Regions from separate parts of the Homo sapiens genome. Here region 1 is linked to region 2. The links come from fine-mapping of genetic effects on gene expression. A gene starts in region 2. The other region holds a variant in brackets. All regions are shown on one strand. Distances are from middle to middle. Region 1 has its middle 13 kb from the start of LINC00847. Region 2 holds the start of HEIH (hepatocellular carcinoma up-regulated EZH2-associated long non-coding RNA).

Region 1 (15,204 bases), 17 kb before region 2:
CACAGGGCTGAAGAACAGGTGTGGGCAGAACCAGGTTGTGAGAAGGAAGCCGGGCGCAGAGTAGCGGCCGTACAGGAGGGGGAGGGGCAGAAGAGACTGGCCAGCAGCGGAAGCGCGCGGCAGGTGGAGCCGCGCGGGAAGAAGCACGCATGCGTCGCGGGGGGGTTGGCCCTTGGGGTGCTGGGCGGAGCTTGGGAGGGGCGAGGACGCTGAAGTAGGGGCGGAACCTGTGCGGTGCAGCCCTGCCCTCTCCCTCCGCCCAAAGGTCGCCCAGCGACGGCCTGCTTGACCTGGTTTCTCAAAAAGGGTGACCCCCCCCCTCCGCCCCACGCTGGTCGCGGGTCCTGGCGAGAAGCCTTTCGGAAAGCACCGGGGCCTGTGTGTTCCCGCTTCCTCGGACGCGAGCTCTGTGTAGCCGTGGTGGAGGAAGGTTTTGTTTCGTTCATCGCTGCTGTTTCTCGCTGCCTCTCTTGACGAGGCAGGGCCCTTGCAGGGTGCGCCCGCGCTGCCCTCTGACAGGTGCTGTTGGTACCTGCGGCCGGGCCCGCCGTCGCCGGCGCGTGAACGGCCTGCCCGAGGCTGCCGGGAGGAGGGCTGCCTGGCCGGCGCGGCCCTTCCCGTCGTGCCCCGGGCTCCTCGGAAGCAGCCTCCCGCTCCTTCAGACGTCGGACTCCTGAGTTTCGAACCTGCCCCGCGGTTTCCCCCTCACGCTGAATCCAGGGGAGCCGCTACTCGTTTTTGAAGTTCCTATGCAGCCCTCTCCCGACATGTTCGAGAATCTTGCCGGACTGGGGATGGATTTGCAGCCTCCGTGTTTGCCCCCACGGTTCGAAAACCGGAATCTAGGCCCGGTCTCCTGGCCTGTGTTCTGTCGTGGGATTTCTCCAGAGCACGGACTGACTTAACATTTCCATTACTGGGAATGTAATGGTTGCTGCGTCAGGACTCTGGAGATGATTTTTTTATTTGGAACGATATAATTTTTGGAATTTCCTTAAAGGGAAAAATACATATTGCTTAATTATATTGCTTGGGATATATTATTGCAAGGAAGAAGAAAATAAGACCCTTTCTTCCCCCACCTTCAAACCTTCTCCGCCCACCTGTCTTTCCCATGGGCATTAATGGCGGCTCCATTTACTCAGGCCAGAACCAGAAGAGCCAGCTTCACTCTCTCACCCCCTCTACACAATCTGACTAGAAATCCTGTTGACCCTACCTTCAATCTGTGTCTAGGATGCAACACCTCAACATGTCCACACCCCCCTTCATCCCTCACCTGAACACCTAGGTCTCCCTGCCCTCCCTACCCTCCCAGTCGCTGGGTTTCCGTACAGCAGCCACAGGGATCCTGTCGTTTCTGTGCTCCAAACTGCACAGCGGCTCCTCAGTTTACTTGAAATAAAACGCCAAAGTCCTTACAATGGCTGCAGAGCCGGACAACCCACTGGCCTGCCTAGCTGTCTGACCTGCTCTCCCCTTCCTCTGTTAGCTGCATTGGCCTCTGCACCGGCTGTTGTCTATTTGTAAAACACCCCTTCCAGGCATTTCCAGGACTGAACCCTTCAGCTCTTTCAAATCTTTCCTCCCATGTCACCTCAGTGAGGCCTTTCCTGACCAACCTGTTTAAACCTGCCCCTGACCCAGAGCACTGCTAGTCTCCCTTGGCCTGCTCCACTTTTCCCAGGACGCTCACCACTTCCTGAAATACTCGCCGGGTTTACCATGTATTGTCTGTCTCCCACTACTAGAATTTAAGTTCCCTGAGTGGAGGCACATTTGATTTTTGATTGCTATATCCCGGTGGCTGCAACAGTTGGCTGGCCCATGGTAGCAGCTCAGCACACATTTGTGGAATAAATGAACCAATGAATGAACTTGAAAAGCTACTTTCACCGCAGAGTATTCCCCTTCGGGCTTCTCTCACATGGAAATATATGAACATAGGTATAAGCACAGTATACAGATTTTGCATTATGATTTCTAATCATACCATAGAGACTTTACATATTTCTAAGTATTTTCATAATTATAACCATTTTTACTTAAGTGACCTTCGATTTTTCGTGCTTGTTATAACAAGTCATACAGAGTTGTGTAAATAAAAATTTGTCTCCTGTCCCCCTCTCATCCCACCCTGCTGAAAGGAACCACTTTTAAACTAGTGGATATCTTTCCAAATATTTTTTATACACACGCACACACACACAGGCACACACACACACACATACATAACAGGTACAAATTTCACAGTCCAAAGACAGATATTCCTGAATTGTAACTTTATTTTCTATAATTCGAGTCAATTTGTATTTTAGGTCTTTCCTCCCATAGTAGAAAAATGAAATCTAGTTTATTTAAGGTAAATGTTAGTATGTAATGATGTTTATTTATTAATGAGCAATTACAATTTAATTTCAGTTGCTTCAGAATTTACTAATGCCCTTCTCTCCTTTTCACCATATAATTGCCGGTTTTAAAAAATTATTAAAAAATATGCAATAATTACAGGAAAATATAAATGATAAAATAAAAAAGCAAAAACCACCTGTAAAACCAGCAGCTAGAAATAAGTTTATGAAAAATATACTTCTATGGCATTTTTAATGACCAAGTGGCATACTATTATACAAATGTACCATAATTATCTCCCCTATTTTTGTACATTTGGGTTGTTTTCAACTTTTCACTTTTGCAAAATTACTTGTAGCTAAATCTGTGTGCACGTCATTTTTTTTTTTTTTAGGATAAAGTCTGGGAACTCGTGTCGAAAGGTGTGCTCATTGTTGAAGGCGTTTGTTTGATATGAAAGATACACAGAAAGATGGCACAGCTTTGACACCAACTTTTCTCCACACCCTGCACTGTCACACCATTTTTTGTCATCTTTGTTAATATGATAGAACGATGGTTTTGCATTGTTGTTTTAAGTTTTATTCCACTAATTGCTAGTAATGTTGAACCTGTTTTTATGCATCACTTTTGCAGATTGCCTACAGCATATCTTTTGCCCACTTGGATTCATCTTTGTCTTATTCATTTGCAAGAACTCTTTATAGAATATCAGCCCTTTGTTACCTATGTTACAGCAATTTTCCCAGTTTGTCATTTGCTTTTTAAGTCTGTTTATGTGCTCTTTTGACATTGCAGTAGTCACCGCTAGCTGGGCCAAAAGTCTGGTCTTGCTGTACATACTGCCTTCAGAATAAACACTTAGGAGTAAGCTAGAGATTTTTGTTATCAGTTACTCCACCTAGAGGACCAGCAGGTGGAGTCTCCATGGGCAGAGTCTCGCGGACTGTCATTTGGTGTGGGGTGGCCAAGAGGGACTGAACATCTGGAGAACATGGTTGTCGGGCTCTTTATACCAGTGGACCCCTCTTTCCTATGGAAGCCTCGCATCTCCATCAGAAGCAGCAGTAAAATGGCCTCTGCTGTCTTCTGCCTTTCAAGTCTAACTCAAGGGCACCTGAGTAGGTGAACCTAATTGCAAGGGAGTTAGATATGTAACCTATTCAACTAGAAAGAAGGTAGCCAGAGGGGCTACCTACAGTCCCCACCAAACTTATGTATCAGGGCTTCCCATCCTGGCTGTTGAATTACCTATTCTGGCAGCTGTTCCAGTCAATACAGCTGATAGTAAATTTTAATAACTGGCAGTAAAAGTCTTCCCCAGTAACCCTGATTTTCAATGTTTTGTTGGCCATTTTCACACATTTTTTCAGGTGTATATTTTTTCACACTATTTGTTCAGATGATCATTGTAATTCATTTCAGAAACTAGATATCTCTTGTAATTTCCTGGGCTTCTCCTTACCCTGGCGAGTATTCTTTGTACCGATTTTAGTCTGAAGTCTGGTAGGTACAAAAGTTAGTTTGTGTATTTGCTATTTGTTAGGTGCCCTTCATCCTGGTATTTAAAATTCTGGCCCATAAAGAAACAACCACACTCACTTGTTCCCTCAATCTTATTGTGCCTCTTGGCAGCTTCTGACATTGTCAACCGCTCCCTTCTTCTGACACACTTCTCTTGACTCCCACGCCAGCACGCTCTCTGGGGTTCCCCCTCCTCTGGCTGCTCCTCCTCAGCATCCTAGCAGGCTTCTCCCTTTTCTCTCTTTACCCACCACTTGCTGTACAAATGCGGAGTTCCCTAGGGCTCTTTCCTGGGCCCTTGTGTCTTCTCATTTTACACTTTCTTTCGAGATGATCCCACAGAAGTCACATGGCTTCCAGTATCCACTCCATGTCAAAGATACTTAGTCTGTTTCTATTGCTTATGACAGAATATCTGAAACTGGGGTCGGGTGCAGTGGCTCACGCTTGTAATCTCAGCACTTTGGGAGGCTGAGGCGGGTGGGTCATGAGGTCAGGAGTTGAAGACCAACCTGACCAAGATGGTGAAACCCCATCCCTACTAAAAATATAAAAATTAGCCAGGCGTGGTGGCAGGTGCCTGTAATCCCAGCTACCCCAGAGGCTGAGGCAGGAGAATCGCTTGAACCCGGGGGGGCGGTGGTTGCAGTGAGCTGAGATCGCGCCACTGCACTCCAGCCTAGGCGACAGAGTGAGACTCTGTCTCAAAAAAAAAAAAAAATTAAAAATTAAAAACAAGGAATATCTGAAACTGGGTAATTTATAAGGAAAGGGAATTTATTTCTTACAGCTCTGGAGGCTGAGAAGTCCAAAGTTGAGGGGCTGCATTTGGTGAGAGCCCTCTTGATGGTAGGAACTCTCTGCAGAGTCCTGAGGGGTTCAGGGCATGACATGGCAGGGGGACTGAGCGTGCTAAGGTGCTAGCGCAGGTCTCTCTTCCTCTCTTATAAAGCCGCCAGTTCTCCCATGATGAATCCATTCATTAGTGGGAATAGAGCCTTCATGATCCAATCACCTCTTAAAGGCCCCACCTCTCCATGCTGCCACTCTGGGGATTAAGTTTCAACATAAGTTTTGGAGGGAACACCCAAATATGCATGCTCAAGTCCCTTCTCTGTGCTCCAGGCCCACATGTCCAATTCCCTGCTTGCCCTCCCAACTCAGTCCCCTCACAGATACCTCTGACTCACGTGTCCAAAGTGAAATTTGCAGTGCTCCTCCCAGCTCCTCTCTCAGCAGTCCCGTTCTCAGGAAATGGCAGGCCAGAAGTCTTCCACAACATTCCCACATCCAGTCAGTCAAAAGCCTCCGAAAGCTTGTCTCCCGGTTATTTCGTGGCTCTTTTCCTCCACCCTCTCCTTTGACCTGGCCAATACCCTCCTGAAACTCCTTCCTCTTTTACGTCTCTTTTCATGTGTGATTCATTAGATCCACTAAGTTCCACCCCTAGAAGGAGAGGGTGGACTTTCCTGCAACACTGAAGACAAATTTCCCTCTTCCCCTTTTTCATGTTCCCTGTGACTTTTTAAATTAAAAAAAAAAATTCTTTTTTGTTTTGGCCCTGAGTTGCACTGTAAATACAGGACTGAAGATGACGTGACAAACCCAGACATCGCCATGCCTAAGGCGTAGAGCTGAAGACTTTTTATGTGTCATAAGGAATTCTAGCAAAACCCAGAATATTCAGCAGGAACATGGAATGGAGTTGGGGTGGAAGATACAGAAATTTCAGTTCCATTCAATCATGGGGTAACAGTTACCTAAGTCCCCTAAAAAATCACAGCACTTTCTCGCCTCATTTTACAATGAAGGATGTCTGGTCTTGCCTTATTTATTCCTTGTATGGTTATTTTAATTACGTTTATTTTGGAGCCGGGTGCGGTGGCTCATGCCTGTAATCCCAGCACTTTGGGAGGCCGAGGCAGACGGATCACCTGAGGTCAGAAGTTTGAGACCAGCCTGGCCAATATGGTAAAACCCCATCTCTACTAACAATACAAAAATCAGCCGGGCGTGGTGGCGCATACCTGTAATCCCAGCTAGTAGGGAGGCTGAGGCAGGAGAATCGCTTGAACCTGGGAGGCGGAGGTTGCAGTGAGTCGAGTACGTGCCACTGCACTCCAGCCTGGGTGACACAGCAAGACACCATCTCAAAAATAAATAAAAAAAAAATTTTTGAACATTTCTCCACAATTAGATATGAGCTTCTTAAGGACAAACATTCTGTTTACCTTAAAATAATCATATATTTCTATATTAGTGCAATTCAATGAATATTTATGGGTGGGCTCAGATCCTGGCTCCTCTCATTTCCGTGGACTCCAGGGATCCAGTTTCCTCTTCATAAAGCGAGGATAATGAAATCTGTCCTTCACCCCTGGCAAGGCACTCATGAGGATCAGGTGAAACCATGTGTGTGGGAACCCTTTTAAAACCGCAAAGAGCTGCATAAACATCTGAGGGCTTTAGGTTCGCAGATACAATCGGAAGGCGCCTGGCGCTGCTGGGCATTGAGCTTCCAGGGGGCACTTGGTGGAGAGCCCTGCACTCCCCTCCCTGAGGAAGCAGTTCCCATAGTTCCCGTTTCCCACCTGGCCTCTCCTTTTCAGGGCTCCTAAAGAGTGATCTTCACAGAGAAAGCCAGTCTGTTTAAACGATATTGTAAGTTCTGAATATCACCAGGTCTATTTTTTAAGTCTGAATTTACATTTAAATCAGGAGCATTTGTCCAGGCCAGTAATTTTTCAGCCCAGCTCCTCCAGACGGTGTGTGTCCATTACCAGTGAGAATTTGAAACCTTCCTGACGCCAGGAGGCTGAGGTTTTCCTGCACTGGGCCTCCACTTGTGTGTGGAAGGGGAGGGGCGGCAGGGAGGCAGGAAGAGGGGTATGGAGGGAGAAGGGTGGGAGAGGAAGGTCAAGGAAGCACAGTTATAAATAGAAGCGTCTTTTGCCTTCAAGATATTTCAGGTCACATGGAGAAAGGAAATTCACTCTTAAGAAATAACAAAGAAACAAAAGACTGAAGTCAATTCAGAAGTGCTGACACAAAGACCGGTTTGGAGGCAGTAAAATTAATCAGGATTGCCTCCTGGGAGTAGGTGGGTCACCACAAGGTCTTGAAAGCAACCAGGGGAAAAAGGAACTCCTGGTTTGGGGATCATAAATCTCTCTTCAAGAACAACCAAACTCCAGTATGAGTATTTACGCTCCTTATCATCTAAGCTGGGTCTGAGGTCAGGAGCTTGGATTCTGGTCTTCATTCCAGGGTCCAGCTCATCACAGACCCTGAGCAAATTCTTTACTCATCTCCTTGTGCAGGAACAGTTGAAAAGTACTTTGGGGAAAACCAGTTTTAACTATTACTCCCAAACCTTAATTAGAACTGTATAATTCTTTATCTTTTGTGAAATGAGTTTTAAACTAGAACAACCATTGTAATTATTAGAAACATTTTAAATAATTGTCAGTAATAATCTTCATTCGTCATAAAAAGGGAAACACATCTATTAATCTTTCAAAGCACAGTTCTCTGATCTTTTTCCAGGTGTATGATTCACTCTTTTCTACCTTATTTTGTGACAAAATGTGGTCTGTACGAGGCCCCCACTCAGTATCAACACAGGACGCCTTCCAAAACAATGCAAGAATGTAGGTTCAAGACTGTTTCACGCCCCAGCAAGCACTCATTAGGTGGCATTCAAGGCAAGTTTAAAAAAAAGGGGGGGCGGGCACAAACTTCTGGGGGTTAATAATTTAGTACCGTGCCTGCCACTACCCAGTTGTCGCTGGTTTGTGGCAATCACAGCTGCGTTGTGTCACACCACTGATTAATTCCTAGGAACTGCTAAGGGCTGACCTTTTCAGATGACTGACCTGCCTAAATAAATCAAACCCATTTGAGGTCATGTCTGTGGGCACAGCAAGCTGACTTGCCTTCTCGAGTGGGTGAAAAACAATTGGCATTTCAGTGAGGAACTGGATGTAATACATGAAATGGCTCAGATCTACTCAGCTGGAACCCAGGTGAGGAGAATATTCTGAGTAAAAAAATCATGATTTGTTGTTTTCTGGGCTTTGGCACTATACAGAACACCACAGGCAGTTTGTTCCAGGGTAGAGGTCAGGGATGGCTGGCCTGAGGGACACACAGACCCCAGACTCATCTCCCTCTCTCAGCCAGGGCGGTAGCTCTCCCTTCACCTCCTGATGTCCTCGGACTTTATTCCCAGCTCAAATGCCACGCTCCTCGAAAGTGCAGTACGCTGTCAGGATGAGCTTTCGTTGCCCTACGTTGGAATTCACTGTGGCACAGCTGTCCCTGGCTTTCCTCCTTTTCCTATTTCTCAGTCCCACAGCAGTGTCTTGAGAGGACTTGGGTGGATGTGCAGCAGCTGCAGGGATGAAGTAGACAGGAGCAGCCATGGAAGAAACTCAGGTTTCAGTGAAGCACTATGAGGAGGTCCTCCCAGGGAGGCTGTGGAATCAAAATGTTAAAAGGGGTAGAAAAAAAGCGAGCTACAAGATGAAGATTTTGCCTACCACGTTTTGAGAAAATTTAAAAAGATAAGCGATACAGTGAATGAGACAGGACTTTCGGCTAAAATCGGAGTAAAATTTGTAGATTCCAGTAAACCAAATCCCTAGAGAAGAGTCCCAGCCAAGACAATGTTAGAAACTTGGTTGCAAATTGTACAAGTTTGAACTGAGAAGGCCAAGTTTGTGGGTTAATGGAAAAGAGAAAAATAGGCATCCCAAGAAGGATACATTGTTTTCCCATTAAAGAAGCAAGGAAATACACTTTGAAAAGTAAGTATGGGAAAGAATGAGGTTAGGGCTACACAGAGATGCCATGGCACACTGGTTATCTCCCTTGGGTTCAAATGCCAACTGTACCACAATGCTGTGTGCCCACGGGCAAATTCTTAACCTCTCTGTGCCTGTTTCCCCACCTGCCACATGGAAGATTTATAATGGCCACCTCATGGTTTTATGAAAGTTGGAAGAGTTGTCAGCCATGGTGTCTGGCACATAGTACTGTTATATTATTTTATTATATAACAATTTATATTATTATTTTATTATATTATATATTATAAATTATATATTATATTATATATTGTATATAATTATATAATATATAATATAATTATATATTATATATTATATATATTTTATATATTATAATTATATATTATAATTACCTATATTATATAATATATTATATAATTATGTTTTATATTATATTATATAGTATAATACAAATTATATGTTATATATAAAAAATAATAAAATTTGAAATATCTAGTGTCATTTATTTGGAATAAAAGAGGGAACTTTATGGATAACCTGATCAAATCCTCTGTGATTCCACAGATGAGGAAACACAATGTCATTATATGATTTTATTAATCATTCCAGACTCATTTTATTTTCTGGGTCACCGTTAAATGGCTTTCATTTACTTAAATCTTGTCTTCCAATATGATTCTTGAATGCAAGAACTTGTGTCTTAACTGTGTGCTCCTAACAGTGTTAGGCACACATAGCAGAACTTAAATACTGGTTAGATTTTTTTAAATACATAATTTCAAATTTATTCCAGTGGCAACCATTTCCACATTAACAATGATTAGGAGTTTTTTGTTGTTGTTTTTATTTTTTTATTTTATTTATTTTTATTTATTTATTTATTTTGAGATGGAGTGTTGCTCTGTGGCCCAGGCTGGAGTGCAGTGGTGCGATCTCGGCTCACTGCAAGCTCCGCCTCCCGGGTTCACGCCATTCTCCTGCCTCAGCCTCCCGAGTAGCTGGGACTACAGGTGCCCCCCAGCGCGCCCAGCTAATTTTTTGTATTTTTAGTAGAGA[CG/C]GGGTTTCACCATGTTTGTCAGGATTGTCTCGATCTCCTGACCTCGTCATCTGCCCGCCTCGGCCTCCCAAAGTGCTGGGATTACAGGCGTGAGCCACCGCCTGCAATGTTTTTGTTAAATACCAGTTTGATTTGACTTTTTTTAAACTCTAATGCCAATTTAAAAGACCCAGATGGCCCTGGCAGAAGAGTCTGGATGAGCAAGTGTTAACAAAGGGTGATAAGGCCTCAGAAGGCATTGTGGCCAGGCAGAGAGAGAGAGGAGAGAACCAGTGAAGAAAGACTCGGTTCTTTGGAAGGAGGCCCTGCAAGGCCCTGGAGCCCAGCCCACGGTCCTGGTTGCCAAAGACTTGGAGAAGTCTTGTCCAGGAGGTGACGTTCATCCTTGCCTCTAGCCAAAGGTTAAAGGAACAGCCTGAACAGGAGGAAGGCAGGGAAGAGTGCAGCGCTTCATGATAACATCGGTGTGCGAGCAATTCCACACAATAACTGACCTTCTGTTGAGGGATGGGGTGTAGGGTGGGAAAAAGAAGAATAACAGGAAAAACCAAGCCCAAAGGTCCTGATCCTGAGGGGATGGACAGACCTGGCCTATGTGGGGCAGAGAGTGGGCTTTGATGGAAAGGCAAGAGTCTGGTAGGCGGGTGGGGTAGGGTGGGGATCAGAGTGTATTGCCTGAATTTAGTCTCATAAAACTTGTGTGTGTGTGTACACTGGCTGATGGTCCTCCTGAACTGTAGTCACAGTCCAGAATGCCTGAAGCACCTGATATGATAATGAAACTCCCAGGGTGTTCTTTGTGAAAACGATGTTGGGTCAGCAGCCAGGTGTTAGTTTCACACTCACAGGTGAGGGAAAATCACTCTTCTGGAACCACCCTACCTTGTCACTGAGTCTACAGTCCCAGCATACAGACGGCAATGCTTCCTTTAATTTGGGGTTCCCAGTTTTAGTTGGTTGTAATCACTTTCTAAAAGCATACACTGGACACATTGTTGCCTGGAGTCTTAGGCAGTAAGTGATAATGTTGGGCAAGAGGCACTGTCCAAATGGCCATGTGATTTTTTTGTTTATTTCTTCCTTTAAAGGGAAGACTGAAATCCTTGAAGATTACTTGACGTAAGTCCTCAGAACCACCCCAAATGGTTTTGAAAGATTTATAACTTCTCTCATGTGCTCAGTATATGATGCTCTTACTTAGGAAGAGGAAGAAAAAATGTTTACAGTTTCACTTTGAGCTTTAAAAAATTCCTATAACAATTAGCTCTTGATTCAGAAATTATAAATAAAACTGTTTTATTTTCCAATTTACTGAAACATTGTGTCCTGTAATGTTTTAGTCTTCATTGGTCCAGGGATTTAATTTTAATCTTGCACTTTTTTGTAGAAAACAGCTTATGAATCTTAACTCTAAATATTTATTGTTCTGTACCAATTGTACTGATCTCTTATGTTGGAGATTTGCATTCATGCGTGGATGAAATGGATTTGCCATTCTTTATTAGTGGACAATAATGACTGACCACGGAATTGGGTATAAGTACAGGCTTTAAAGGCAGAGAAACCTACATTTGAAATGAACCCTGTTATACAGGAACACTATGACTCTGAAAGGCATATGAATACTTGGAGCCTCAATGTGCTTAGCTGTAAAATGGGAACAATCAGATTATCTACTTTACAGAGCTGTTGTGAGGCCTATATAAAGCCTTGCGTGGCTGAGATAGTGCTAGTAGTACCCACCAAATCCCCTCTCAGTTTCCTCTTCATGAACATAACACTACATTTGCCACCAGTTTGAGTCCATGTGACGGCTCTAGCCAATAAGCCACCATATAGATACATGTTGTAGGTGATGCAATTACAAGATAGAGGAGGGTTGTCCAATCCACAAAGGACCTTATGTGAGCAAGCGATCGGCCTTTTATTTGTAAAGCCACTGAAATTTGAGGTTTGTTTTTTTTTTTTTTTTGTGCTACGGGAGCATTGTCTAGCTTACCCTAATACATTGGACATATGATAAACAATTGATAAATTTTGGTATTGAAAGCCGGGCGCAGTGGCTCTTACCTGTAATCCCAGCACTTTGGGAGGCCGAGGCGGGCAGATCACCTGAGGTGGGTGTTCAAGACCAGCCTGACCAACATGGTGAAACCCCGTCTCTACTAAAAATACAAAAAATGAGTCGGGCATGGTGGTGGGCACCTGTAATCCCAGCTACTCGGGAAGCTGAGGCAGGAGAATTGCTTGAACCCAGGAGGTGGAGGTTGTAGTGAACCGAGATCGTGCCACTGCACTCCAGCCTGGGCAACACAGCAAGACTCCATCTAAAAAAAAAAAATTGGTATTTAAGGTGTCTGTGAACCAATGTGGAATGATGCCTTGAACATACATTATTAAGAGAGAGAAGCAAGACAGAACAGAGTGTATAGTGCGCCACATTTTGTGTAAGAAAGAAGGATAAATTAAAATGTATATATGTACTTGCTCATGTTTGCAAAAAGAAACACAGGAGAGGAAAAACCAGAAACGAATCAACTTGATGACCTATCCTTGTAGGGAGACTGGGGCAGGGTGGTGGGGATGTGCACAGGCGTGAGACTTCTCTGATCAAATGTTTTTACACAATGTTGATTTTTGAACCATTTATTCTCTATATATTCAGAAATAAAAGTAATTTATAAAGGAAAATGCCTTAAAATTGTACCTTAAGAGAAATAAATGACCAACTCTATATAAAATTGATCCAAACCAACAATAAACAAAAAGGTTAATTTGGGTAACTTGAACATATTACTCTGACTATATCTATATATCAATATTATTAGGAACTAGGAATTTTTCTGTATAAGAGGAAAAAGATAAAATATAAAAAAATAATGTAAACACTTATGTTAAATTTCAATAGCAATACAAACTCATACTATTTCATTATATATATATTTTTATTATATATATATTCATTACATATGTAAATAAAGCATCCTAGTTGTGTTCCTGAAAAAGCGTACGATGACACCCTAGTGGTAACGAACATAACTAACCCTCATATCTTGCATCTCCTGCTGTAATAAATGGTACAGGCAAGAATAATCAATGGATACTGAAACCATTACATAAACGTGGCAGGGCAATAGAATATTCCTACAGGGGCAAAGTACACCCCACAAATCATTCAGTAATTTAAAAGGAAAAAAATGTTGGATCCAATTTATACCCAGCCAGCACATCCATTTGACCCTGCCTGCCCCTGGGGACCCACTACCCTGATCCTAGGTAAAGCAGCTCCAGTGATGGCCGCAAAGTTCCAGCTTCCACCTTGTCACCTTACCTCCTATAATGACAGGCACCGCTGTCTTTGGCAAGGCCATGTCATTCCACCTGCCAGGGCAGGAGCTGCAGCAACTCCTGTGCCCAGGTCCAGCAGGAGCCCCGGGTGAACTGGCTTTCCCAGTGGCTGTGTCGAGGCAGCTAGCAACACAATCCTGAAGTACAAGTGCTTTACCACCACGTGAGCTTTGCCTTGTAGGACTCCTCTGAGGTGCAACGGAGCTACACAGCACCTCCAAAGATGTCTCACATAGCCAAGCGGCCAGCTGTGCTGTTTATCAAGCAGTGGCTAATTCAGCAGCAGACCATCTTGTAGTTTCCCCCTCAATTCATTTTTCCCCTTTCACAGCATTGCACCCCCACCCTGCAAAGCAATAGCATGTAAACTTTGCCTCAGTTGATGTTCCAGGCAAAGGTACCTTCTCATGGACATATAATAATTACTTTCTCAACAGGTCATCCCCCTGAGCATCGCTGCTGGCAAAAACCCAGTGTGAGGACCTCCTCATGGAATACCTGTAAAGTATTCTTTATAGCCAAATAAATAAATAAATAAAAGAAAAAAGTTTATTCAAACCTAAAACCTAACTTCCATTATAAGGGCTTAAAAGTAAAAGTTAAAGGACACCATCAGGAAACAATCGGGCAAGCCAGGGATGTGTGACCTTCTCTAAGACAGCTGGCCCAGATTCCTCAAGTCAATGTCGTAAATCAAAACCAAACAGAAGTTAAGGTGGGGGAGATTTTCCAGATTAGCCTCCAGATGGAATCCATAAGCCTTGATTAGCTCTCGGGGGAAACTGCATACAAACATTTAAGGTACAATTGCAAAAATTTTAAAATGACTTGGATATTAGTTGTGATTGTAGAATCATTGTTAAGTTTCCTAGGTATGATAGTGGTATTGCGGTTATACAGGAGATTTTCTTTATTCTTAGGAGATTCATATTGAAGCACTTACGGATCATGATGCCATACTGACAACTTATTTTCAAAAATGGTGTGTATCATGTGTTTGTGGGGAGACAGAGAGAGGAGAAAAACCAAATATGGTAAAACGTTAACAACCATTGAATCTAGATGAAAAGCATTTGTGGTTTCTTTTGACATTTTTCAGTGTTGAAAATTTTCATAATAGAAGGCAGACAGATAAATATCAGTAAAAAGCAGATAAAATTGAGGATATATTTGTATTTGAAGAGCTTTTTAAAGCCATGTTTTCTTTTCCTCAACCAGTTTCAAATAAGCAGCCAATACTTTATCAGGAACTAATTCATCCACCTCAGAATGGATATTCACACCCAAATTGCTGTGCTTTCAAAAGCTTTTTAACCTCTTGTTTGTTGCTAGCACTTTCCCAGTGGAAAGAATTTGATGCCATTTCCGCACACCCAAATTCCTGTTGGCAGGATAATCAGCAAGTAATACAGAGAGCTGCTTCCTTCAACAGCTGCATTCAGCACAAAACCGAGGGCCGATTATGTGGAGAAATATCCTTCAGAGGTAAGGCATCAGGTAAAGGCATCAGTGATCTTTTCCATGCATTCCAAATACTGTATTGGATCAAACTGGAGCAGCATCATTCTCTACAGCTGTGCTGGCAACAGACAGACACAAATGAACTATTTAATATGGCAAAATGCACAGCTGTTTGAGGCTTCTATTATTAGCACCAGTTCTCGACTCACTGGGAAAACTCTTCTTCAACTTGTTAATGCGACAGTTTTATTTGTTTGGACGCAGCTTTCCATTATCATTCTTCCCACCCCAAACTTCCCTTTATCCCCAAGATGTCTCCAGACAGAGGTGTTTCCAGCTGGCCCCAGTTCAGCTGATCTCCAGTCTGTCTGCCCATGAGAGTCCCAGGAGAGCATGCCGTCTAACTAAGCCGCCTGGGCTTTGCTCTGGACCCCTAAGGAGTCCCTACAGGTCAGGTCTTCCCTGCTCCATCCAGAGAGGGGCCCCTCTCATACTGCAGAATGCTCGAAGTCCACAAATGTTCATTCTCCCCTTCGTTACTAGTAGAACTCACTCAGTTAAGGCTGAGCTCACGGTAGGCAACCTCAAACTCTCAGTGGCTTATCAAAAAAGTCATTTATTTTTCTTGCAGGCTGGTGGAGGCCGCTCTGC
Region 2 (16,589 bases):
TTTGCTGTGTGTTCCTGTGTCAGTTTATAAATTAGTGTCTATATTTACAACCGATTGGAAGAACGAACTTTTTAGATCCTCTCATCCAACAAAGCTGCAGATTTCTTTATTGAGATGGAGTTGAGAAAGCTTTAAAACAGGCCAAAGCAACATGAGGACATGTGTCATGAGAAGAGAAATGGTCTTCCATAAATTGAGTGCTGGGGAAGGCTTGGTGTAGGTAATGTAGAGGTTCTCAAACTGTGGAGAAGCTCAAAATGTGTTCCTTTGAGCCTTGGTCTTCTAGTTAGGCCACTGTCTAAGCCACTATACAAAAAGACACCAAACACACTGGCTTCAACAAGACAAGCCTCTGTTTCTCTTTCGGGTGACAGGAGAAGCAGAGGACTAAGCTTTCTTTTCCAAGTCATCACCTGAAAGTTGCCCCTTCACTTCTGCTCACATTGCATTGGCCAGAGACTTGAAAGGAAGCTGGGCACGTGCTGTGGGGAAAAGAAAGAGAGATCAGATTGTTACTGTGTCTGTATAGAAAGAAGTAGACGTAGGAGACTCCATTCTGTTCTGTACTAAGAAAAATTCTGCCTTGAGATTCTGTTAATCTGTGACCTTACCCCCAACCCTGTGCTCCCTGAAACGTGTGCTGTGTCAACTCAGGGTTAAATGGATTAAGGGCTGTGCAGGGTGTGCTTTGTTAAACAGATGCTTGAAGGCAGCATGCTCCTTAAGAGTCATCACCACTCCCTAATCTCAAGTACCCAGGGACACAAACACTGCGGAAGGCCGCAGGGACCTCTGCTGAGGAAAGCCAGGTATTGTCCAAGGTTTCTCCCCATGTGATAGTCTGCAATATGGCCTCATGGGAAGGGAAAGACCTGACCGTCCCCCAGCCCGACACCCGTAAAGGGTCTGTGCTGAGGAGGATTAGTATAAGAGGAAGGCATGCCTCTTGCAGTTGAGACAAGAGGAAGGCATCTGTCTCCTGCCCGTCCCTGGGCAATGGAATGTCTCGGTATAAAACCCAATTTACGTTCCATCTACTGAGATAGGGAAAAACCGCCTTAGGGCTGGAGGTGGGACATGCGGGCAGCAATACTGCTTTGTAAAGCATTGAGATGTTTATGTGTATGCATATCTAAAAGCACAGCACTTGATTCTTTACCTTGTCTATGATGCAAAGACCTTTGTTCACGTGTTTGTCTGCTGACTCTCTCCCCGCTATTGTCTTGTGACCCTGACACATCCCCCTCTCGGAGAAACACCCACAAATGATCAATAAATACTAAGGGAACTCAGAGGCTGGCGGGATCCTCCATATGCTGAACGCTGGTTCCCCGGGCCCCCTTATTTCTTTCTCTATACTTTGTCTCTGTGTCTTTTTCTTTTCCAAGTCTCTCGTTCCACCTAACGAGAAACACCCACAGGTGTGGAGGGGCAACCCACCCCTTCAACGTGCCCTGCCAAACCTCTGGTGGTAAGGCTTCGATTACTAAATGGAAGAAAGGGACACAGGGTGTTTTGGAGTTGACACCTAGCTCTTTGGAGGTGACTCAGATCACTCAGGAGAGTCCGTAAGGCCCGGTGGGCAACACCCCAATCCTCCAGTCTCTACCCAAGAAGCTCCACCTTCATCTATTTGAGGGTTCTATGTTGCGGGAAGTCAGGGACCCCGAATGGAAGGACCAGCTGGAGCTGTGGCAGAAGAACATAAATTGTGAAGATTTTATTTTAATATGGACATTTATCAGTTCCCAAATAATGCTTTTATAATTTCTTATGCCTGTCTTTACTTTAATCTCTTAATCCTGTTATCTTCATAAGCTGAGCATGTATGTCACCTCAGGATCACTATGATAATTGTGTTAACTGTACAAATTGATTATAAAACGTGTGTTTGAACAATATGAAATCAGTGCACCTTGAAAAAGAACAGAATAACAGCAATTTTTAGGGAACAAGGGAAGACAACCATAAGGTCTGACTGCCTGCGGGGTCAGGCAAAAAGAGCCATATTTTTCTTCTTGCAGAGAGCCTATAAATGGACGTGCAAGTAGGGAAGATATTGCTGAATTCTTTTCCTAGCAAGGAATATTAATAATTAAGACCCTGGGAAAGGAATGCATTCCTGGGGGTAGGTCTATAAATGGCTGCTCTGGGAGTGTCTGTCCTATGCGGTAGCGATAAGGACTGAGATACGTCCTGGTCTCCTGCAGTACCCTCAGCCTTATTAGGATTGGGAAACTCCATCCTGGTAAATTTTTGGTCAGACCGGTTCTCTGCTCTTAGACCCTGTTTTCTGTTAAGGTGTTTATCAAGACACTACGTGCACCACTGAACATAGACCCTTATCAGGAGTTCTGCCTTTTGCCCCTTGTCCTGTTTCCTCAGAAGCATGTGATCTTTGTTCTGCCTTTTGCCCTTTGTCCTGTTTCCTCAGAGGCATGTGATCTTTGTTCTGCCTTTTGCCCTTTGTCCTGTTTCCTCAGAGGCATGTGATCTTTGTTCTGCCTTTTGCCCTTTGTCCTGTTTCCTCAGAAGCATGTGATCTTTGTTCTGCCTTTTGCCCTTTGAAGCATATGATCTTTGTTCCTACTCCCTGTTCGTACACTCCCTCCCCTTTTGAAATCCTTAATAAAAACCTGCTGGTTTTACGGCTCAGGTGAGCATCACGGTCCTACCAATATGTGATGTCACCCCCGGTGGCCCAGCTGTAAAATTCCGCTCTTTGTACTCTTTATTTCTCAGCCGGCCAACATTTATGGAAAATAGAAAGAACCTATGTTGAAATATTGGGGGTGGGTTCCCCCGATATCTGGCCCCTATCGGGTTCCCCCGATAGTTCTATCTAAATTTTTATCTGAAAAATAAGTTTCTCTGCTTTAAAAAAGAAACTTTGAAGACCATTTTACAGAAGAATTGGTTTGCCAAGGTGGAAAGAGAAGCTCATCAGTGACGTGACTTAGCCAAAAGCACTGGTTATACCTCTATACCTCGGAGCCGACACTGAAAGCCCCGGCCATAGTCTTTCTGCCCCAAGGAAAGCCTGGGGTGGGGGTGGGTGATATTGTCAAGAGCCAGGCCCCAGCTCCTCATACACACAGCTCATTTGCTCTCCCTCCCAACCCCCACCTTCATACTTCTTCCACACGCATACCAAAGAAAATAAGAATCTCAAGGTTGGAAAATCCCACTTTACTTCAAGTGAAGTCACTGGGTTGTCCCCATGAAATATCTCCACAATGGGTGTGCTAGACCTTTACTCTCTGTGGCACCACCAAGACCCCCTCACCCTGCCAGAGCCCTCTGAAGTGTACTCAGAATGGAGGGGCTGGAAGTGGGGCCAGTGGTCCTGGTAGTCAGCCTCCCCTTCTGACACAAGAATTATCGTGGAACAGCTTGTGTGACCGATCAACTGGTCTCTCCATCTTTAAGCCATTGTCTTGTTGACTCTGTTACTGCAGAGTTTGGGGAGGTCTCATGGCTTCTCGCATCCTATTTCCTGAGCTTCCCTGAAGCCAACTTCTGGCCACTGGTATGTGATGCGAGCACAGTGCCTCCTCCTGCTCCTCCAGGAAGCTTCTGCTGATTGAACGCAGGCCAGATGGCGAGATCCGGAGCAACCTTCTTAGATCAAGGGAAGAAAGGGGCACAAGAGGGGAGTAGGTAACAAGATAAAAGGAGCTCCCTCCCTGATGACTACAGAGCCATCGTGGCAGCCCTGGGCCTCCATTTCAGACGTTCATCTTGCCTAAGCCACCACCATCAGGGTCTCAGTCAGTCATCATTCTCATTTACTCGGGTGGCTGGGTGAGGGCGGAATACTACCTTCCAGCTGTCTGAGATTAAGCCTAAGCCACCACCATCAGGGTCTCAGTCAGTCATCATTCTCATTTACTCGGGTGGCTGGGCGAGGGCGGAATACTACCTTCCAGCTGTCTGAGATTAAGCAGAACAGCAGCTAAAGCAGTAACAGCAGGTCTCCTTCAGCAGCTTGCCACAGGGAAGAGGGTCCCGCGTGAACCGAACTCAACTTCCACCTGCGCAGAGGTAGCTACCATTTGCGTAGAGGTAGCTGGGTCTTTAAGGTTAGAGGGAAGGCGCAGGGAGGGAGAGACGGCGGGTGGGGGTTGAACAAAGTGGAGATTCACAAAAGCAGACTAGGGCGGGCGACGTGATCAGATGACCTGTGCGGGCGGCAGCCTCCTGCCCTCCTCCCCTTCGTGCGCCGGCTGGAGCGAAGAGTTCTTTTGACAGCCGTGAGCTTCCCCGCCAGGAACTTACTGGGGCTGCATCACCCTAGAAACGTGGCTTTGGGCTGTGGAAACGCTGCCTCTGTGGAAGTCTCTCCTCGCGGGGGTGGACGGGTCGCTGCGCGCCCAGCGTTCTTCTGCGGTTCTCACAGCCCGCCGCCGCCGCCGCCTCGGGGACCTTTGCGGGGAGGCCTCAGGTCAGCGCCGCCCTTGCGATGGCGGGAGAGCAGAGCGGCCCCAGGGCCTCTGAGCTCCGGCCCCGGCACGTCCCGCCCTCTCCTCCGCTTGCGGGAGCCGGGGCGCCTCGGAGGGAAACCTTCCGGACACAGGCCGGGAGAAGAGGGGCCGTGGCGCCATCGCGCAGCTTCCTGGTTTCGGCCATGTTTTTTTTTTTTTGAGACGGAGTTTCGCTCTTTTTGCCCAGGCTGGAGGGCAATGGCGCCGTCTCGGCTCCCTGCAGCCGCCGCCTCCCGGGTTGAAGGGACTCTCCGGCCTCAGGCCGCGGTGTTCTTGTAAATTAGAACCGGCCTATGCGCCAAGCGCGGGTCTCGCGGCTGCGGAGAGAGGCCCAGCAGGGGGCGGGGACGCCGGGAGGCGGGGCCTGGCCGAGCTGCGCACACCCGGGTGGTTCTGGCTACGGGTACCCGGACCTGCCCAACGACCGTTCTCCATTCCCGACCTCCGCACCCTACCCGGTCCGCAGGGCACCTTCCTCCTCTCTCTCAGGCACGTCCTCGACCTCAGTTGCCACGTGCACATGCTGGTGCCTTCCAGGTCGGTCTTTCTCCACCAGACTCCACCTGGAACTTTCTTCCTTTTCGTCCTGTGCTGGCCTAACCCCTGCTCGGCCTCGGCCCTCAGCTGCCGGCTCTAACAAAGCCTCTGTCTTTCCCAGACCCCTGTGACCAGGTCAGGCTCTGCTCCCTGCGTTCCTCTCTCCTTGCTTCCCTCCTCCTCCCCTCCCCAGAATCGCTTGAACCTGGGAGGCAGACGTTGCAGTGAGCTGAGATCGCACCATTGCACTCCAGCCTGGGTGACAAGAGCGAGACTCCATCTCAAAACAAAAAACAAAAAACACAACTCTTGCTGGCTCCTTGATTTTAGCCCAGTGAGATTCACTTCTAATTTCTTTTTTTCTTTGAGACAGTCTGTTCTGTCACCCAGGCTGGAGTGCAGTGGCGTAATCATGGCTCACTGCAGCCTCAACCTTCCTGGACTCAAGTGAACCTTCCACCTCAGCCTCCCAGGTAGCCGGGACTACAGGGGTGCACCAGCATGCCTGGCTAATTTTTGCATTTTTTGTAGAGATGGGGTTTCACTATGTTGCCCAGGCTGGTCTGAAACTCCTGTGCCCCAGCAGTCCTCCTGCCTTGGTCTCCCAAAGTTCTGAGATTACAGGCATGAGCCACTGCGCCTGGGCTTCCATTTCTGATTTCCAAAACTCTAGGATAATAAATTTACATTGTTTTAAGCCACCAAATTGTAGTAATCTGTTACAGCAGCAATAAGAAATGAATACAGCCATGCTTGATAATTCCTTTATCAAAAGCTACCTATTGGTGTTAGGAAGTATTGTTTTAAATTCTAAGACAGTGTTTTCACTTTCTATCTTGTGCACTGACTACCTCATGACCCCTTAGGTACCAGTCAGGACTGGTAGACTTTAATGTGGAGAACTTCTGAAACAGCAGTTCTCAAAATGTTACCTCCAGACACACAGAATCTGCATCACCCAGGAACTTGTAACCATGCAAATTCTCAGCCACCCAGACTTCCTGCATCAGAAACTCTGGGGCCCAGCAGCCTGTGTTTTAACAAAGCCCTTCAGGTGATTCTGACACTTGCTCAAGTTTGAGAACCGCTGTTCTAGGAGCTGGTCCTGCAGGGAAAGGGTGGCCTCTCAGTTCAGGTTCCAGTGTGGCTGGGGGTGGGGGTCAAGGTGAGGGTTTGGTTGTTGTGTCTGACAGTCAGCCAGGCTTGAGCACACGGACTGTTTACAAGGCTGCACTTTCCATGTTCTGGTCAGCAGTCTCCTGGTTCATTCCGTTACGAATGGACTGTCACCCCAAAATTAATGTTGAAATCTATTTCTCTATTTGGAGGTGGGGCCTTTGGGAGGTAATTAGGTCATGAGAGTGGAGCCCTCATGAATGGAATGACTGCCTAAGAGAACAGAGATGGCTCACACCTGTAATCCCAGCACTTTGGGAGGCTGAGGTGGGCGGATCACGAGGTCAAGAGATCGAGACCATCCTGGCTAACACGGTGAAACCCCATCTCCACTAAAATACAAAAAATTAACCAGGTGTGGCAGCGGGTGCCTGTAGTCCCAGCTACTCAGGAGGCTGAGGCAGGAGAATGGTGTAAACCTGGGAGGCAGAGCTTTCAGTGAGCTGAGACTGCGCCACTGCACTCCAGCCTGGGCGATACGGTGAAACTCTGTCTCAAAAAAAAAAAAAAAAAAAGAGAACAGAGAGCTAGCTTGCTGATTTTCTGCCATATGAGGATACAGTAAGAGGGCAGCCATCTGCAACTTGTAAGATGACCCTCACCATAACGTGACCATGCTGGCACCACGATCTCAGACTTCTAACCCCCAGAACTGAGAAATAAATTTCTCCACCACTCTATGACACGGTATTTTTTTTTTTTTTTTGAGATGGAGTCTCGCTCTATTGCCCAGGCTGGAGCGCAGTGGCACGATCTCGGCTCACTGCAACCTCTGCCTCCCGGGTTCAAGCGATTCTCCTGCCTCAGCCTCCTGAGTAGCTGGGATTACAGGTATGCGCCACCACACCTGGCTAAGTTTTGTATTTTTAATAGAGATGGGGTTTCACCGTGTTAGCCAGGATGGTCTCGATCTCCTGACCTCATGATCCGCCCGCCTCGGCCTCCCAAAGTGCTGGGATTACAGGCGTGAGCCACTGCGCCCAGCTGGCATGGTATTTGTTATAGCAACCCAAGCTAAGACACTCCATGTTATGGACTGAATGCTCGTCTGCCCCCAAAGTTTCTATGCTGAGATCCTAACCCCTTTGTGATGGTAACAGGAAGTGGGAACTTTGGGAAGTAACTAATTAGGCCATGATGGTAGGGCCCTCATGAGTGGGATTAGTGGCTGTCTTAGTCCATTTTGTGCTGCTATAATAGAATACCCGAGACTGGGTAATTTATATAGAACAGATGTTTGTTCTCTCACAGCTGTTGCATTAGGGATAGATGGAAAGACTTATTTATGTATTGACTGACTGATTGATGGGGCCTTGTTCTGTTGCCTAGGCTGGAGTATAGTGGCATGATCATAGATCACTGCAGCCTCAAACTCCTGGGCTCAAGCGATCCTCCCACCTCAGCCTCCATATAGCTGGTGGGGACCAAGTTTCTAACACATGAATGTTGGGAGACACATTCAGACCATCGCAGTGGCCTTATAAAAAGAGACACAAGAGCTTGCTCTCTGCCATGTGAGAATACCACAAGAAGACTGTCCTCAGCAAATCAGAAAGCGGGTGGACCCTCATCAGACACCAGATGTGCCTGCACCTTGATCTTGGACTTGCCAGCCTTCAGAACAGTAAGAAAGAAATGTGTGTTGTTTAAGCCACCCAGTCTATGGTAACTTGCTATAGCAGCCCACTAGGAGACCCCAAGATATTTAAAAACTCATCAGCACCTGCTTTCTGCATCTGGACCCTGATCTTCTGGTGGGTTTACCAGTTACTTGTAGAGTGTCCCTGTGATAGTTTTAGGTGTCAACTTGACAGGATTGAGGGATGCCTAGATGGCTGGGGAAGCACTGTTTCTGAGAAGGACCATGTTTTTGGAGGAGACTGTTTTATGAGTGAATTTCAGGGGACACATTCAGATCATGGCAGTGGCATTATAAAGAGAGACACAAAAGCTTGCTCTCTCTCTCTGCCATGTAAGACTACCACACAAAGACTGCCATCTGCAAACCAGAAGCAGGTGGGCTTTCCTCAGACACCAGATCTGCCTGCACCTTGATCTTGGACTTGCCAGCCTTCAGAACTCTAAGAAAGAAATGGTAGCATGGCTTGGTCTAAGTTGGAAGGCCTGAGAAACAAGCACATGGTGGAACTGAGTTCAAGGATAAAGACTTGAGAATACCTGCTCAGTGGACTGAGTAGGGAAGATCAACCCTCAATGTAGGCAGGCACTATCCAATCACCTGAGGGCCCAGATGGAACAAAAAGGTGGAAGAAGGGTGAATTCTCTCTTCCAGAGCTGTGACACCCTTCTCATGCCCTTGTACCACACAACTCTAGGTCCTTTGGCCTTTGGACTCTGACACTTGCACCAGTGGCCCTCTGGGGCTCTCAAGCCTTTAGCCTTGAACTTAGTTACACCATGTGCCTCCTTGTTTCTCAGGCCTTCCAACTTGGATCAGGCCATGCCACCGGCTTCTCTGATTCTCCAGCTTGCAGATGGTATATTGTGACCCTGGCATTTAATAACTATGACTTTGGTCTTAAGCAATTTTCTTCCTCTGTGGATTGATATTTACATATCAATGTGGATAATAATTTCTTACCACGGTAACTGTTGTGAGGTAAAAATGAGTTAACATAAGTAAAACCGAGCACATGCAAACCATCCGAAATGGTTAATACTTACTATTTGTACTTGAAGAAATAAATGTTTTTGACAATAAACTTCTTGTGCAGTTTTCCTCAGCCAGTGTCAACTGAGCCGATCATTTATGTGACAGTTTCATTACCAAATGGATGTTCTCACCACTATTTCAAGTGCAGTATGAAACTTTATTTGAAATTCTAAAAAACTAATTAATTAATTAAGGTTGTTTGGCTCTTGCAGCCTGTATTAATTTCCTAGGGCAGCCGTAACAAAGGAGTCACATACCACATGACATTTTGGTCAGCAGCAGGCTGCGTTTCTGACAGTACTCCATACAATTATAACACCATTATTTTTACGGTACCTTTTCTATGGTTAGATACACAAATACTTACCGTGTTACAGTTGCCTACAGTATTCAGAGTACAGTCACATGCTGTACTGGTTTGCAGCCCCGGCGCATTAGGCCATGCCGTGCAGCCTAGCTGTGTAGTAGGCTCTCCTGGCTAGGTTTGTGAGTGTGCCCTCTATGATGTTCACACAACGGCCTAACGATGCATTTCTCACAACGTATCCACGTTAAGTGACCCATGACTATTCATTCTACAAACTGAGAAGCTTAAGTAACAGAAATTTATTTTCTCACAGACTTGGAAGACAGAAGCCTGAAATCAAGTTGTTAGTAGGGCCATTGCCCTCTGAAGGCTCTAGAGGCAAATCTTTTCTTGCCTCTTTCAGCTTCCGGTGGCTCCCAGCAATCCCTGACATTCTTTTCCTTGTAGTAACACAACTCTAATCCCTACCTCAGTCTTCACACAGTGTTCTCCCCTGTGGGTCTCTCAATCTCTCACTCCTCATAAGGACAAGTCTTTGCATTCAGGGCCCCTCAAATCCAGTGTGACCTCATCTTAATTTGATTACCTTTGTAAAGATGCAATTTCCAAATAAGGTCACATTTGTATGTACTGCGGGTTAGGACTTGAACATATATTTTTAGGGGGCACAAGTGAACCCACATCAGAGGTCAAGCCACAAAGCAGCCTACATGGCGAAACCAGTCTTGTCGTGAAAATGTAAACTGAGGTAAGGGCCATGCTGCCTTGGAAAGCGTTCTGTGTTGTCATTCCAGAGCCACGGGGGCTGGATAGTGACAACAGAGGTGGGTTGCAGATCTATGGGCTACTCTTTGCAGAGGCAGTAAGTAGGGACTGCCACAGCATTCAATTAATTTCCTGTAAGAATACATTTTATTCAAGTTGATAAAAAAGCTATACTTATTAATATTGCATAACATTCCTGTGCTATCAAATGAGAATCTCCAGAAATGAATTTGAATAGCTATAAAACCCACATTTTTCTGCAGATACATGTGTAGCCACCTGAGAGCCAGGTCCCTCAGTGTCCACAGACATAGCCCTGCCACCTACCGCCTGCTTCCCAGAGCAATGAAGCTTCTGCTAACTCAGGCTTATCCCAGTCTCTATTTCAGGCCATCAGCTGGATGAAGAATTAATTTAGTAAGCATGAAACAGCTTGCAAAGCATTGGTGAGTGGCTGAGGGCCATGAAACGAGACCACCGTGTGGCCCATCTCTGAAGATGAATCCAACAGCAGTGACTCTACCTGCGTCCTCCCCATCTTTTCTGCTTTTTCATACAATGGCTTATTCACTGCGTGTGACATCATCACTAGCACTGTGTTTATCTATCACATTTCTTCTGTTTTGTGGGTTTGTTTTGCATTAAAGGTCTACTTCTCTGAGCTTTGAGCTGTAAGGCTTGACTGTGAGCAGCAACTGAAGAGTGTGGCACCTCACACTCGGTAGGAAGAAGCTGAATGACAGATGTCGGCAGTGAGGGTGGGGAAAGCAGCCAGGTACCAAGCAGCTGTTTTTTAGGCTAACCATTGAAGGGAAGCTCCTAATCCCTGAGTTAACTTTTAGCAGAGATTAACTCAGTCTATCTATTGGGATGTAAAGGATTTGGGCATAAAGGTATGTTAATTCGGAGGCTCTGGAATGTATAACAATTTCTCCCATTGAAATTTATGATAATTAAGTGTTCAACTTACTGGAATTTTCCCCACAAGACTCTTCTGGGATGAATTTGCCTTGGGGAGAAGACTACGTAACTGAAAACCAGCATCCAGGCCCTCAAGAAGAAATATAATCTCCAACAGTCTCCTTTTCAATTTCTGTCAAATGTCTGGCTTCTCTTGAAGGGATGTTCACGAGAAGGGACAGCCGCCCTCCTCCGAGCCTCCTGTTTCAGCTGATGCACCTTCAAGTACAAGGTCCTGTTCTTGGGCTCTGTTAAAGTTTCCCTCAAGAAAAAAACCTTACATTTGCCAATGCACTTGATGTAAAGTTGTTGAGGATGTTGACTCTCCTTTAAACATTTATTGAAGCTAGGAATAAACTTAACTGGACCTGTGTATAGGAAATCTTAAATTTCTACTAAGAGATGAAAAAAAGAATTCCCTTCCCTTCCTTAACAATTCAGCTCCCGTTACACAAAACCAAACAAGATGGGATTCTGTTGTGGGGGGACAGAACTTCATTGTCCTGAAGCTAGGTGTTGGAGCCCAAGCAGGGTGAGGAGGGAGTCAAGGAGGCCCATGTGGTGGTGGAGCATGGCCTGGCATGGGTCTCAGTGCCCAAGCAAGGTGAAGAGGGGACCATGCAGGGAGTGAGGGTGTCACTGCCCAAGTGAGGTGAGTAGGGCAATTTTGAAAAGTCATGAAAGTTGAGGAAGGGCTGAGGCACCATTCTAGATTGAAGGAGACTAAAAAGATGCAACACTCACAATGCACAATTCTAAACTGAAATCTTTGCTCTAAAGGACATTAGGACAATGAAAGAAACTTGCACGGGGTCTGAGCATTAGGTAGTAGTAATGAATTGATGTTGAGTCCCTAATTTTCATGGTTGTATGCTGATGATGTAGGAGGTTCTTGTAGGAAATACACACTCAAAAGTATTCTGAGGTGATGGGGCATCATATCAGAAGCTTATTCTCAAATGGTTCAGGAAGGAAAAAGTTTTATACTATACTTCTTTGGCAAGTTTAGATTGTTTCAAAATAAAATTTTTTTAAAAAGAGCATTTGTTAACCATCAGTTTGGTAAAAGGTGAAAAATGTTGATAATACCTAGTGTTTGTGAAGGTGTGGAGAAACAAAGTTTCATACACTATTGTCAAAAGTATAAATTGTTACAATATTTTTGGAGAGCAATTTTCCAGTATGTAGCAAAAATTTAAAAGCAAATCTTAACTCAGCAATTCTGCCTTTAGAAATGTATTTGTAGGATAACATACAGGAGAGAAAAATGTATTTTACTGCAACACTGTTGATACTAACAAAAACTGGAAACCACCAAAACATTTATCATGAGGGGGTTAAGTAAAGTATGGTATAACTATACAATGAGTGTACTAGGAAACCCTTAGAAAGAATGCAGAAAGATGTATGTGGACTTTTACAGAAAGGTGAGCTACTGTCTAAATGCAAATGTGCCAATATCATGTATATACAGTCAGGTTCCTTTTGTTAAAAACCAAAAGCGTATGTTTAGAAGCAAAAGCACTCATATAAAGGCCTGGTATAGAGCAGTGGCTAAAAACAGTGCCAAGATACTGCCTCAACTTCCTCTCACATGCTGCCCTGGTGATACTGAGGCTGGTTCAGGAACCATGACAGCCTGTTTGTATGAATTCCTTAAAGCACAAATTACTTAGTTTCTTTCATAACAGTCACCTAATCCCTTAGTTTAAAATGGTTGTGTTCATGGAATACTATGCAGCCATAAAAAAGGAGATCACATCCTTTGCAGCAACATGAGTGGAGCTGGAGGCCATTATCCTAAGAGAACTAATGCTGCAACGGAAAAACCAAATACCGCATGTTTTCACTTACAAGTGGGAGCTAAACAATGAGAACACATGGATACAAAGAGGGGAAAAACAGACACTGAGGCCTACTTGAGGGTGAAGGGCAGGAGGAGGAAGAGTATCAGAAAAAATTCCTATTGGGTACTATGCTTATTACCTGGGTGATGAAACAATTTGAACACCAAATCCCTGTGACACAGTTTACCTACATAACAAACCTGCACATGTACTCCTGAACCTAAAAGTTACAATAAATAAAAAATAAAATGGTTGTGTCCTGACAGGAAATAAGTGTTCCAGATCTGCTTGCCTCCTACCCCCTTAAGAACTCCCAGCGCCAAGGACAGCTTCACAGTGATGTGCTGAATTTGTTTTTTCTCTGCCCCACCCACCATTTTGCTTCTGGTAAGATTTTGAATCCCTGGTTAATTAATGAAGAACTAACCTTACAATGGGTATATGCTTGTGGTCCCTTTCCACCAGCCCCCAGCCCACCTAACATACTAGTTGTGGGACTGCCTAAAGAAAGAATGTCAGGAAGGCCAGAGAGGCGAGCTGAGGATCCCCAGGTGGAGGCCTCCACAGTAAGTGCCACAAGGCCATTGCATCATGAGGGCGTGTTCCATGAAGATGTTCTAGCCATGGTGTTTGTCCACTGTCCCATGTGCCTGACTGCTTGGGCACAGTGGACAGTGGTCTTAGCCAAGGCCTAGTTATGTTCAGGGGCAGATCCCTGGCTTCTCCTAAATGCACTGGCCGTGAAAAGGGGCAGTCAGCTTCAGAGGGAGTTGAGGAGCTGGGGATGGGGAAGGCTTTGAAGATGCCCCTCAAAGCCCCACTGGATGTCAATCAGCCAGTTTCCAGACAAGATAAACTAGATAACTTGCAGGATTCTAGGTGTGGGTAGAGATGAGAATCAAACTGGGAAACGTAACTCTTCCCATAGAAGCAGCTAAAATGGCTGGGCATGGTGGCTCAGGCCTGTAATCCCAGCACTTTGGGAGGCTGAGGCAGGTGGATCATAAGGTCAGGAGTTCGAGACAAGCCTGGCCAACACAGTGAAACCCCATCTCTACTAAAAATACAAAAATGAGCCGGGCATGTGGTGGGCGCCTGTAATCCCAGCTACTCAGGAGGCTAAGGCAGGAGAATCGCTTGAACCCTGGAGGTGGAGGTTGCAGTGAGCCAAGATCCCGCCACTGCACTCTATCTAGCCTGGGCGACAGAGCGAGAATCTGCCTCAAAAAAAAAATAGAAGTAGCTAAAACAATTTGTGTGTGTGTGTGTGTGTGTGTGTGTGTGTGTTGGGGTTGGGGAGGAAGGTGTTAAGATCACAGGAATAAATAAAAATGTTAGCATAGTATTGCTATCACAGTATTTCTGTTGTTACATGCTTGAGTCAATCTTTGTTTTTAGAGGAAAAAAGCGTCCAGAAAAAGAAGGACGCTGGAACCTAGGAACTCCATGATTTGTGCTGAGGTTTTTTTGTTTTTTGTTGCAATGGTGTATTCTGAGGACAGGGTCTAAGAAATAACTTCTTAGTTATTCAAATGACTTCTGAATGAAACATTAAAAATACTGAATTGAAATGACCCCAAAACGTCTTAACTATTAGCAAATAGCTAACCTCTTGTATCCCAGATATTGTTTTGTGGAAAGAAAATGAACTTGCTGGATAAGAGACCAACTGAAACAAAATGGAAAGCATGGCAGTGTGCTATATCCATATATATATACACACACACACACACATATATATATACATACATATATATACATACACATATATATATACATACACACATATATATATATATATATACTTTTTACTAAGGCTAGGAACTTGAGGCGAGGATTTTTTCTTTCCCAGTTTGGATTCCCTTTAGAATTTTGGGTTCAGACAACAACTTTTACAGTTCTTGAACCAAGTTCCCTTTTACTGAAAGTTAACAAAATACAAAGAGGGGCTGTGGGCTGTGGGCTGTGAAAGGATTCTGTAGAAAATTGTAAGGCCCAGATTAAGAGCATGCAGACAGCAGTCTATCAGTCAGATTCTAACCTGAAAATCAGAAACCACTCAAGTGTTCAGATGGAAGAAATCTAATGCAGAGAATAGGTGACACACTCAGAGTCAACATCAGAGAAAGCACTGCCACAGATGCTATCAGACACAGCTTTTAAACTAAAAATGCTACTATGTTCAAGGAAAATAAAGCTACATTTGAGAATCTGGCATACTATGAAAAAGGAAGAAGGTCCAGTGCTGTGGCTCATGCCTGTAATCCTAGAGCTTTGGGAAGCTGGGGTGGGCAGATCACTTGAGGTCAGGAGTTTGAGACCAGCCTGGCAACACAGCACAACCCCTCTCTACTAAAAATACAAAAATTAGCCAGGCATGGTGGTGCACACCTGTAATCCCAGTTACATGGGAGGCGTAAGAATTGCTTGAACCTGGAAGGCAGAGGTTGCTGTGAGCCCAGATTTTGCCACTGTACTCCAACCTTGGGCGACAGAGTGATACTCCGTCTCCAGAAAAAAGGAAGCAAATGAAAAGTCTATTACTGAGAAACAGAAAAACTTAAATTGAGCACTCAATGGGTATATTTAAGCCAGATTACATAGCTAAAGAGAAACTTAGTGAACTGGAAGGTAAATTAGATCCAGAATGAAGCCTGGGTAAGGAGTAGGGGACAAAAGGATGGAAACGAGCACTTAAGAGGCACAGGAGATACAGTGAGAAGGCTTTATTTGGAGTCCTAGAAGGAAATGAAAAAAGAATGGTATAGAGCTAATATCTGAGCACACAATGGCTGAGAATTTACCAAAACTCATGAAAGATAAATACACAAATTTAAAAGCCCAGAGTATACAAAAAAGGATCACTTATAAAAAATCCACACCAAAATAAAACACAGTGAAACTGGAATAAACCGAAGATTAAAAAAATCTTAAAAGAAGCTATTTTAAAAAGAATACATTAAACTGGCAGATGAACAGCCAGAGTGGAAATCACACTTCAGTGGCTTAATGCATCCAATGTGACAAAAGAACATGAGGTCTAACCTAGAATTCTATTCCCACAAAAAACCATTTTTAAGAATGAAGTTATTTTTAGGCAAATAAAAATTGTGAAGTTTTACCTCTAACAGGACAGAGTATTCTAAAGAAAGTTTTCTAGAGAGAAGGAAAATGTCCCCAAATAAAAAATTGCAGAGGTGGAGAAGAATGAAAGGAAATGAAAAGGTTGGGCATGGTGGCTCATGCCTGTAATCCTAGCAATTTGGGAGGCCAAGGCAGGTGGATCACCTGAGGTCAGGAGTTCAAGACCAGCCTGGCCAACACAGTGAAACCCCCGTCTCTACTAAAAATACAACAATTAGCCGGGCATGGTGGTGTGTGCCTATAGTCCCAGCTACTGGGGAGGCTGAGGTAGGAGAATTGCTTGAATCTGGGAGGTAGCCATTGCAGTGAGCCGAGATTTTGCCACTGCACTCCAGCCTGGGTGACAAAGCAAGACTGTCTCCAAAAAAAAAAAATAAATAAATAAATTTAAAAAAAAAGAAAAGTAATTAAACGTTTGGTATAGAAAATAATAACATATTTTAATATATATGTACATTTATATGTATATATAATTAAAATTAACCAAAACAACAGCATATAGGATGGAAGGTAAGAAGTATTCTAGGAACTTTGCATTGTCTAGGACGAAGATAAAAGTATCAATTAACATTAGGCTTTGGTAAGTCAAGAATCCACCTTTTAATTCCTAGGCCACTAAAAGAAGAGAAAAAGTATATAACTTCCAAACCAAAAGATGGAAAAATAGAGTATGAATAGAATCATTCATAACTATA

The links.
Region 1: its variant is fine-mapped to the expression of HEIH in unexposed skin (GTEx, PIP 0.97).

The regions. Positions count from the first base shown.
Region 1 is chr5:180,810,359-180,825,562 of GRCh38, forward strand. It overlaps a transcript of MGAT1 not described here. Among named protein-coding and RNA genes, the nearest start is that of LINC00847, 13 kb to the right of the region's middle. RefSeq lists silencers at 494-743, 14,311-14,605 and an enhancer at 3,978-4,237. The variant CG/C (reference allele first, on the strand shown) is at 9,744.
Region 2 is chr5:180,826,786-180,843,374 of GRCh38, forward strand. HEIH (hepatocellular carcinoma up-regulated EZH2-associated long non-coding RNA) reads right to left here and starts at 4,833. Exons shown (of 1, transcript NR_045680.1): 1 at 3,169-4,833. It overlaps LINC00847 (long intergenic non-protein coding RNA 847), which reads left to right and starts at 4,172. Exons shown (of 3, transcript NR_045679.1): 1 at 4,172-4,444; 2 at 5,888-6,075; 3 at 7,527-8,941. It also overlaps a transcript of ZFP62 not described here. RefSeq lists silencers at 4,398-4,447, 4,808-4,937, 5,378-5,547.